2 separate regions of the Homo sapiens genome follow, and region 2 is linked to region 1. The links come from fine-mapping of genetic effects on gene expression. A gene starts in region 1. The other region holds a variant in brackets. All regions are shown on one strand. Distances are between the middles of the regions.

The links. PIP is the estimated chance that this variant, and not a neighbour inherited with it, causes the effect. A credible set is the group of variants that fine-mapping cannot tell apart.
Region 2: its variant is the best candidate, but not a certain one, in a credible set for the expression of TIMP2 in whole blood (TOPMed, PIP 0.51).

Annotation. Positions count from the first base shown.
Region 1 is chr17:78,922,914-78,927,293 of GRCh38, reverse strand. TIMP2 (TIMP metallopeptidase inhibitor 2) reads left to right here and starts at 1,907. Exons shown (of 5, transcript NM_003255.5): 1 at 1,907-2,335. The coding sequence starts at 2,206. RefSeq lists an enhancer at 3,678-3,747.
Region 2 is chr17:78,868,110-78,872,489 of GRCh38, reverse strand. It overlaps TIMP2 (TIMP metallopeptidase inhibitor 2), which reads left to right. Exons shown (of 5, transcript NM_003255.5): 3 at 1,484-1,592. LOC124904068 (a long non-coding RNA gene) reads right to left here. Exons shown (of 2, transcript XR_007065924.1): 2 at 4,260-4,380. Among named protein-coding and RNA genes, the nearest start is that of USP36, 29 kb to the right of the region's middle. The variant C/T (reference allele first, on the strand shown) is at 2,119.

The DNA.
Region 1 (4,380 bases):
ACTTTTAAACGTTAGCTTCAAACATCATTTTGTGAACGACCCAACTCTATTTCACGCTAACAAAAACCAAAAAAGTGACTTTGGATTTGTCAGGGTGCTAAAAATAACGGCATTGCTTATTTAACTTTTCTCAGAACTGTCTGTTACAAAACATACACAAACAGAAAGAAGCTGTTTTTCCATTCTTTCACTATTTTCCAAAGTTTCATACCTCAAGTCAGCACCGCACAATTTAGTGGGCAATTCTTTTTAAAAAAAAAAAAAAAAAAAACAAAAAAAAACAAGAGTCTTTCTCTGTCGCCCAGGCTGGAGTGCAGTGGCGCAATCTCGGCTCACTGCAACCTCCGCCTCTCGGGTTCAAGCGATTCTCCTGCCTCAGCCTCCTGAGTAGCTGGGACTACAGGCGCGCGCCACCACGCCCGGCTAATTTCTTGTGTTTTTAATAGAGACGGGGTTTCACCGTGTTAGCCGCCAGGCTGGTCTCGAACTCCTGACCTCGTGATTCGCCCACCTCAGCCTCCCAAAGTGCTGGGATTACAGGCATGAGCCACTGCACCCGGGCTTTTTTTTTTTTTTTTTTTCTTTTGAGATGGAGTCTCGCTCTGTCCCCCAGGCTGGAGTGCAGTGGCATGATCTCGGCTCACTGCAAGCTCCGCCTCCTGGGTTCATGCCATTCTCCTGCCTCAGCCTCCCGAGTAGCTGGGACTACAGGCGCCCACCACCAAGCCCGGCTAATTTTTTGTATTTTTAGTAGAGACGGGGTTTCACTGTCTCTACTAAATGCTAGCCAGGCTGGTCTCAAACTCCTGGCCTCAAGTGATCCTCCTGTCTCGGCCTCCCAAAGTGCTGGGATTACAGGCGCAAGCCACCGTGCCCGCCCTGATTCTTCCTGTGTCATTTTCCTGGGCTTCCCTCTCCCTAGCTGGACTGCAAACACTCTGGAATGCTGACCTGAGGGCTGGAGTGCTGACCTGAGTGCAGCAGTGTCCATGGAGCCCCACGGGGCACACACCAAATGTACAGGGTGGGTGCCCACAGCCGGGCACAGGCAGGTTCACAGCCAGGAAGCCCGCCTCACCACCCTACACATGTTCATCCCTTCATATGCCTGGGTCTTTCCTGGAACACAAAACTGTTTTGGGAAAAGTCCTTCGGCTCCCACATTTGTGGACTAAGAGAGGAAACTGTGAGCGGAACCCAGCCAATGCCTCTGCTGCGATCCTACTGGCTCCTGGGCGCCTGGGCCCACCCCCGTCTCTTGTTGGCTGGTCAAAAATATGGCCAGTTTATATAAAATCCTGTTTTGTTCACAGTAACCACACCCCCCACCCCCCAACTAAACTGGCCAGGCGCACTTAAAATTCTAAGGCCTCCATTTGAAAAAGGGATCCTGTCAGTTTCTCAATAGGCCACCCGCCCACAGAAACGGGGAGGTGGCGACAGGGAACGGCCCCTGCTCCAAAGGACACCCCTTGGCTCGCCCCGAGGCTGGGCTCGAAGGGACCCCGGGGTGGCGGGGGACGGAGCAGCGTAGCCCTCCAGAGTCGAGCTGAAGGGGAAAGGGTAGCGGGTGGGTCGCCTGGTGTCCTGGAAGAACGGGGCGCGAGTCCCCCGCGCTGAGTCAGGGACCCCGGGCGCAGAAGGCCACGCAGCGGGGACCGGGGTCGGGGGGCTGGGGGCGTCCGGGGACCCCCGCGCGGGTGCGGGTCGCGGGCGCCAGGTGGTGCGGGAAGCCCCCGACGTGCCAGGCCGGGCACAACAAAAGCGCGGGCTGGGGGGAGGCGCGGGCGGAGGGGGAGGAGGGGGCTGCTGGGAGCGCCCAGAGCCTGCATTGGCCGCCAGCCACCGGGAGGAGGAGCAGAAAATCCTCCGAGCGCAATAAAACTGCGGCCCGGCCCAAGCCCGCAGCAAACACATCCGTAGAAGGCAGCGCGGCCGCCGAGAACCGCAGCGCCGCTCGCCCGCCGCCCCCCACCCCGCCGCCCCGCCCGGCGAATTGCGCCCCGCGCCCCTCCCCTCGCGCCCCCGAGACAAAGAGGAGAGAAAGTTTGCGCGGCCGAGCGGGGCAGGTGAGGAGGGTGAGCCGCGCGGGAGGGGCCCGCCTCGGCCCCGGCTCAGCCCCCGCCCGCGCCCCCAGCCCGCCGCCGCGAGCAGCGCCCGGACCCCCCAGCGGCGGCCCCCGCCCGCCCAGCCCCCCGGCCCGCCATGGGCGCCGCGGCCCGCACCCTGCGGCTGGCGCTCGGCCTCCTGCTGCTGGCGACGCTGCTTCGCCCGGCCGACGCCTGCAGCTGCTCCCCGGTGCACCCGCAACAGGCGTTTTGCAATGCAGATGTAGGTAAGGAGCGGCGACCCCAGCCCCCGCGCGGGGCCCCACCTCCCCCGCGACCCCGAGGGTTCGCAGACGCCCCGCCCGCCCGCCGCTGGCCGAGGGACCCCAGCGCCCGCCTCCTGGTCCCTCGGCGCCTTCTCGAATCCTGCAAGTGGACGCCCAGAGCCGACTTTCTTTCCCCCCTCCCTCCTCTCCCTTTCTTTCCCTCTCTTTGCCGAGATGCGTCTCAACCTCAAAATTCCACCGAAATTCCGCCGCAGCTCCAGCCCCAGGAAAGGGAGCCAGTTTGGCTTTTGGCAGGCGGCGCGCCCTGGGATGCCAGCGCTGGGGGCGGGGAGCGTGGGGGACACGGCGTGGGGGCGGGGGGCTGGAGGACTGGGGACCCCAGGAAGAAACTTTCGCAGATAAGGTGGGAGTTGGGCTTCTCTGGGCTTGGGGCTGGGTGGGGAAGGGCTTCTCTGCTGGGGCTTCTCCCACCAGCCCCATTTGGGGGCTCCCCGATCAAGCCAGGGTGGGATGGAAGCCCGCCCTACCCGAGGCAGGTTCCACAGGCCCAGAGGGGCAGGTGAAAAAGCCGGTGGCGTCTCCTGGCGTGGCTCCTTGCTTGCGCCCTGCCCAGGAGGCCCTGCAAACTGGCTGGGCAGGGACCGGGACCCCCGAATGTTCCGCTTTTTCGGGACGTCCACAAAAGCTGGAGACTTTGGTGACCGGACCCGGCACGTGGGACTGTGCTGCTGCTCAGATTCCCCAGCAAATACCCATGACCTCCGGACTCCTAGCCCCCAAAAGACAGGCGCCATGGAGGGAGGCAGGAGGGGCCCAGTTATTTGTTCTGATCCATGGAGGGGGAGGACCAGCAGAAATGGGAGGAACCCGCTGGCTCGAAGTTTCCACCCTGGTCCTGCACCTCAAGCCTCTGCAGCCCTGGTGCTGGTCAGCATGGTTTTCCTGGGGCAAGTCTGGCTACACGGCAGGTGGTCTCGGAGCCCCCTGCCCTCCTTCCTTCTTATGTCTGAGTCTCAGTCGAGTGACCTGTCCAGGGCAGATGGAGCAAGGCGGGGGCCCCCTCACCTGCCCAGAGTGGAGGTGGGACTTTCTGTTTCTCCTGCTGTCAGCCACGCCCTTCCCATACCCCGCCCACGGCTTCTTGCCCCACCCCGGTTAGCCCTAGGAGCTGCGTGCCCAGCTGGGGAAGTTTTCAGTTGCACCAATCTATTGAGATCACAGGTCTCAGGTGGCTCAGGCCACCTGGGCGGAAGGCTTGGTGTGTGCCTGTGTCAGTTTCCACAAAACCCAGTTTGGGGGAAATGAGGTCTTTTCTCCAGTTTAGCCTTGGTGCTCAGCAAGATTTGTGGGTGAAGGAGAGGTTCCTTTGATGAGGGAGCCATAATGGGCCTTTCTCTGGGGGTCCACGAGGAGTGCAGGCCTGTCCAGGCTCCTTGGCTCACCAGCACGTGCTGGGGCAGGATGTAGCCAAGGCCCAGAAGGAGGCTGTGGATAAAAGGACCTGGGAGTTGGATTTGTAGGAGTTGGGCCTTGGGACCCCTCCCCCTCCCGCCCCCCCCCCCACCCCGCCCCACACACACACTCCTCAGCTGTGTGGGAGAATGTCCAGGCAGCCACTCTGTCCTTGCTTGGCATAAGTTAAGGCGGCCACTGAGCTGGGAGCTGTTTCTGCGTGGGGTGTGGATCCAGGATGGCAGAGGGTGGAGGGCTGCAGTGCGTGCCTCCCGCCTCCTTCATGCTCAGCGCAGCACTCTCCTCTTCTGGGTTGCCTGGCATTTGTGTCTAAATCTTTGCATCAAAATCATCCTGTAGCTAAAACTTTTCACCCCATCCCGGCTCAGAGGCCCAGTCAGATGCCAGAGTTGCACTGCAGAGCTCAGGGCATTCGCTTCCTGTGGCCGCTGTGACAAACTACCACAAATGGGAGGGCTTAAAAGAACAGGAATCGATTCTCTGTAGCTCAGGAGGCCAGAAGTCTGAAAAGGTGTCCACAGAGCCAGTTCCTTCTGGGGGCTGTGAGGGAGAATCTCTTCCAGGCCTCTCTC
Region 2 (4,380 bases), 55 kb after region 1:
AAAAACAGCCTCCCTGAGTGCTGAGAAAATGCCATTCTTCACCTGGGCAGCAGGTGCGTTCCTGAAAGGCTGTGAGTAAATCACATGTTGAGAAAGCAAACTCTTCTGGCCCATGGAGTTATGTCCTAATTCCTGAGGTGCCTCTCTGCTCTCATTGCCATCAAGTAGACAATATTTGACCAAAATTCCTGGAAATATAGGTTGGGTGGAGTGACTTATGCCTGTAATCCCAGAACTTTGGGAGGCCGAGGCAGGAGGATTGCTTGAGCTCAGGAGTTTGAGACCAGCCTGGGTAATAGAGCGAGACCTCGTCTCTGCTAATTAAAAAAAAAAAAAAGCCAAGCATGGTGGCATGCGCCTATAGTCCCAGCTACTCGGGAGGCTGAGGTGGGAGGATCACTTGAGCCTGGGAAGTTGAGGTTGCAGCCCCAGCCTGAGCAACAGAGTGAGACCCTATCTCAAAAAAATAAAAAATTCCTGGAAATATGCAAAAGTCATGGTCCTTCATGGTGGTCCAGAGTCACGTGGAGGTACAAAAGCCCCTCCCCATAGATTCAGAAATGACCTCTTTGGGGTGGGGGGTGAGGGAACAGAGGTGTTGTCTGAGGATGTCATGCTCCAGATGACAGTCTTTTTTTTTTTTTTTGAGATGGAGTCTTGCTGTCTCCCAGGCTGGAGCGCAGTGGCACGATCATGGCTCACTGCAAGCTCCGCCTCCTGGGTTCACGCCATTCTCCTGCCTCAGCCTCCCGAGTAGCTGGGACTACAGGCGCCCGCCACCACGCCCAGCTAAATTTCTGTATTTTTAGTAGAGACAGGGTTTCACCATGTTAGCCAGGATGGTGTCGATCTTCTGACCTCGTGATCTGCCTGCCTCGGCCTCCCAAAGTGCTGGGATTACTGGTGTGAGCCACTTCGCCCGGCACAGATGAGTCTTGTGCTCACCTGCTGTGATCTGCCACACTAAAAGTTGAGTGACTCCAAAGAATCACTTTGCTATAAGAAGTCTTTTTCTTTTCTTTTTTTTTTTTTTTTTTTTTGACGGAGTCTTACTCTGTCATACAGGTAGGAGTACAGTGGCGCCATCTCAGCTCACTGCAACCTCCACCTCGCAGGTTCAAGCGATTCTCCTGCCTCAGCCTCCCACATAGCTGGGATTACAGGCGCTTGCCACCATGCTCAGCTAATTTTTGTATTTTTAGTAGAAACAGGGTTTTGCTACGTTGGCCAGGCTGGTCTCAAACTCCTGACCTCAAGCGACCTGCCCACCTCAGCCTCCCAAAGTGCTGGGACTACAGCCATGAGCCCTGAGCCCAGCTGGAACGGTCTTTTCCTAACCCATGTATTTGCACTTCCTGGTCCTCTTGGGTGCTGGCTGTACCCCAGCTACAGGTTGTGCCGCCCAGGGTGTTCTGGATGGGAACGGAATTCACCAACTGTGTGGCCTCCCTCTGCTTACATGTCCTCCTCCTTGTCTTTCCAGATGTTCAAAGGGCCTGAGAAGGATATAGAGTTTATCTACACGGCCCCCTCCTCGGCAGTGTGTGGGGTCTCGCTGGACGTTGGAGGAAAGAAGGAATATCTCATTGCAGGTGTGTATGAGTGGGGCCATCAGCCGGAGGCTGGCACAGAAGTGGGGCTGTTCCTAGACGCGGTCCAGGGCTCGTTTCCCAGGCTCGGGGGGTGGGGAGGCGGAGTAGCTGAGGAACAGTGAGGCAGGGTACGGAGCCCTCTCGGCCACTTCCCGTCAGAGAATGCTAGTGAATGTTCACTACCTGCCAATTTCCTGGGAAATTTGAGATTGGTGGACAAAAAAAAGGGAGCATTTTTGCCTTTTGTTCCTAAAAGGGAGGCGAGTGCGGGATGCTGGAGACATGCAGGGCAGAGAAACCCTTTCTGCCGTCGGGAGGGCCAAAAGCTCGCGTAACATCTGTGGATACTATGCACGAGACCTGCTTGACTTATTCATTCATCTGTCTCCTTTTTTTATTGTGGTAAAATAATACGTAACAAAATGTAGCCATGTTAATTAACCATTTTCTTTCTTTCTTTCTTTCTTTCTTTCTTTTTTTTTGAGACAGAGTGTCGCTCTGTCGCCCAGGCTGGAGTGCAGTGGTG[C/T]GATCTTGGCTTACTGCAACCTCCACCTCCTGGGTTCAAGCGATTCTCCTGCCTCAGCCTCCCGAGTAGTTGGGATTACAGGCACACGCCACCACGCCCAGCTAATTTTTGTATTTTTAGTAGAGATGGGGTTCTACCGTGTTGGTCAGGCTGGTCTCGAACTCCTGACCTCAGGTGATCCACCCACCTCGGCCTCCCAAAGTGGCAGGATTACAGGCGCGAGCCACCGCGCCCGGCCAACCATTTTCAAGTGTACACTTCAGTGGCATTAGATACATTCGCTATTGTGCAACCATCACCACCATCTGTCTCCACATCTTCCCAAACCAAAACTCCGTCCCCGTTAAACACTAACTCCCCCTTCTCTCTTCCTCAGCCTTGGCCCACCTCCATTTTACTTTCTGTCTCTGTGGATTTGACTACTCCAGGGGCCTCACATGGGTGGAACCCTGCAGTGTTTGTCCTCTCTGTCTGGCTTATTTCAGTAGCATCATGTTTTCAAGGTTCGTTCACGTTACAGCATACATCAGAATTTCCTTACTCTTTTTTTTGTTTTTGAGACAGAGTCTCGCTCTATTTCCCAGGCTGGGGTGCAATGGCACTATCTCGGCTCACTGCAACCTCCGCTTCCCAGGTTCAAGCGATTCTCCTGCCTCAGCCTCTCAAGTAGCTGGGATTATAGGCACACGCCACCACACCTGGCTAATTTTTTTTTGTATTTTTAGTACAGACAGGGTTTCACCACGTTGACCAGGCTGGTCTCCAACTTCTGACCTCAGGTGATCCGCCCACCTCAGCCTCCCAAAGTGTTGGGATTACAGGCGTGAGCCACCACACCCGGCCCAAAATGTCCTTACTTTTTAAGGATGAATAATATTTCATTGTATGAATGTAGCACATTTTGTTTATTGTTGCATCTCTTTGTTTATAGTTTTTTGGTTTGTTTTTTTTTTTTTTGAGACAAAGTCTTGCTCTGTTTCCCAGGCTGGAGTGCGATCATGACTCACTGCAACCTCGATCTCCTGGGGTCAAGTGATCCTCTCGCCTCAGCCTCCCAAAGTGCTGAGATCAACTACAGGTGTGTGCCACCACACCCAGCTAATTTTTTTATTTTTTGGTAAAGAAGTCTCACCATGTTGCCCAGGCTGGTCTTGAACTCCGAGGCTCAAGCAATCCTCCTGCCTCAGCCTCCCAAAGTACTGGGATTATAGGCGTGAGCCACTGTGCCCAGCCTATATTTTTATTCCTAAGTAAAATTATTTTCCCTTACTTCCTTCTACGGCCTCCTCTGCTTGCCCAGCTAGGCTGAACCACAGGAGGCCAGGACAGGATTCTCAATCTCAGCACTATTAACATTTGGGGATGGACCATTCTTTGTTGTGGGGGCCTACCTTATGCATTATAGGATATTCAGCTGCATCCCTGGCCCCCACCCTCTACATGCCACAGCACCCGCTCCAGTCGCGGGGTCTCTGGACATTGCCACATGTGCCCAGGGGAGGTGGGGTAGATTGCCCCTGCTTGAGAACCACTGGGCTCAAAGAGCTTTCTGCAGTGATGGAAGCGGTCTCTGCACCATCCAGTCCAGCAGCCCCCAGCCTTGTGGCTCATGAGCACCCGAGATATGGCTAGTGCAGCCGAGGAGCTGCATTTTAAATTTTATTTCATTTCAAGTAATTTTAGTATAAATGTAAACAGCCACATGTGGCCGGCAGCCGCAGTCTAGCATGGCACTGACTCAGCCAGTTAAGGAACATTATTCCCCTCCTCCCTGGGGAAGTAGGAATCTGATCACAAACTTAAGAAAAAAAGAATAGACAAGGCCTGGTGCAGTGGCTCATGGCTGTAATCCCAGCAATGTAGGAGGCTGAGGCGGGCGGATTGCTTGAGGTCAGGAGTTCAAGACCAGCCTTGCCAACATGGTAAAACCCTGTCTGTACTAAAAATACAAAAATTAGCTGGGCGTGGTGGCAAGTGCCTGTAGTCCCAGCTACTCAGGAGGCTGAGGCATGAGAATCATTTGAACCCAGGAGGCAGAGATTGCAGCAAGCTGAGATCACGCCACTGTACTCCAGCCTGGGTGACTGAGCAAGACCCCATCTCACAAAAAAAAAAGAGAAAAGAAAGAAGAGACAAGACAATTCCCCTAGCCTGGTACTATAGTTTGTTCCAAAAGGCAACTGTAATCATAAACATATACTCCAAATCCAAATATCCATGATTGGGGGATTTTCTTCTGGTTTAGGTGACATGTACTTTTTT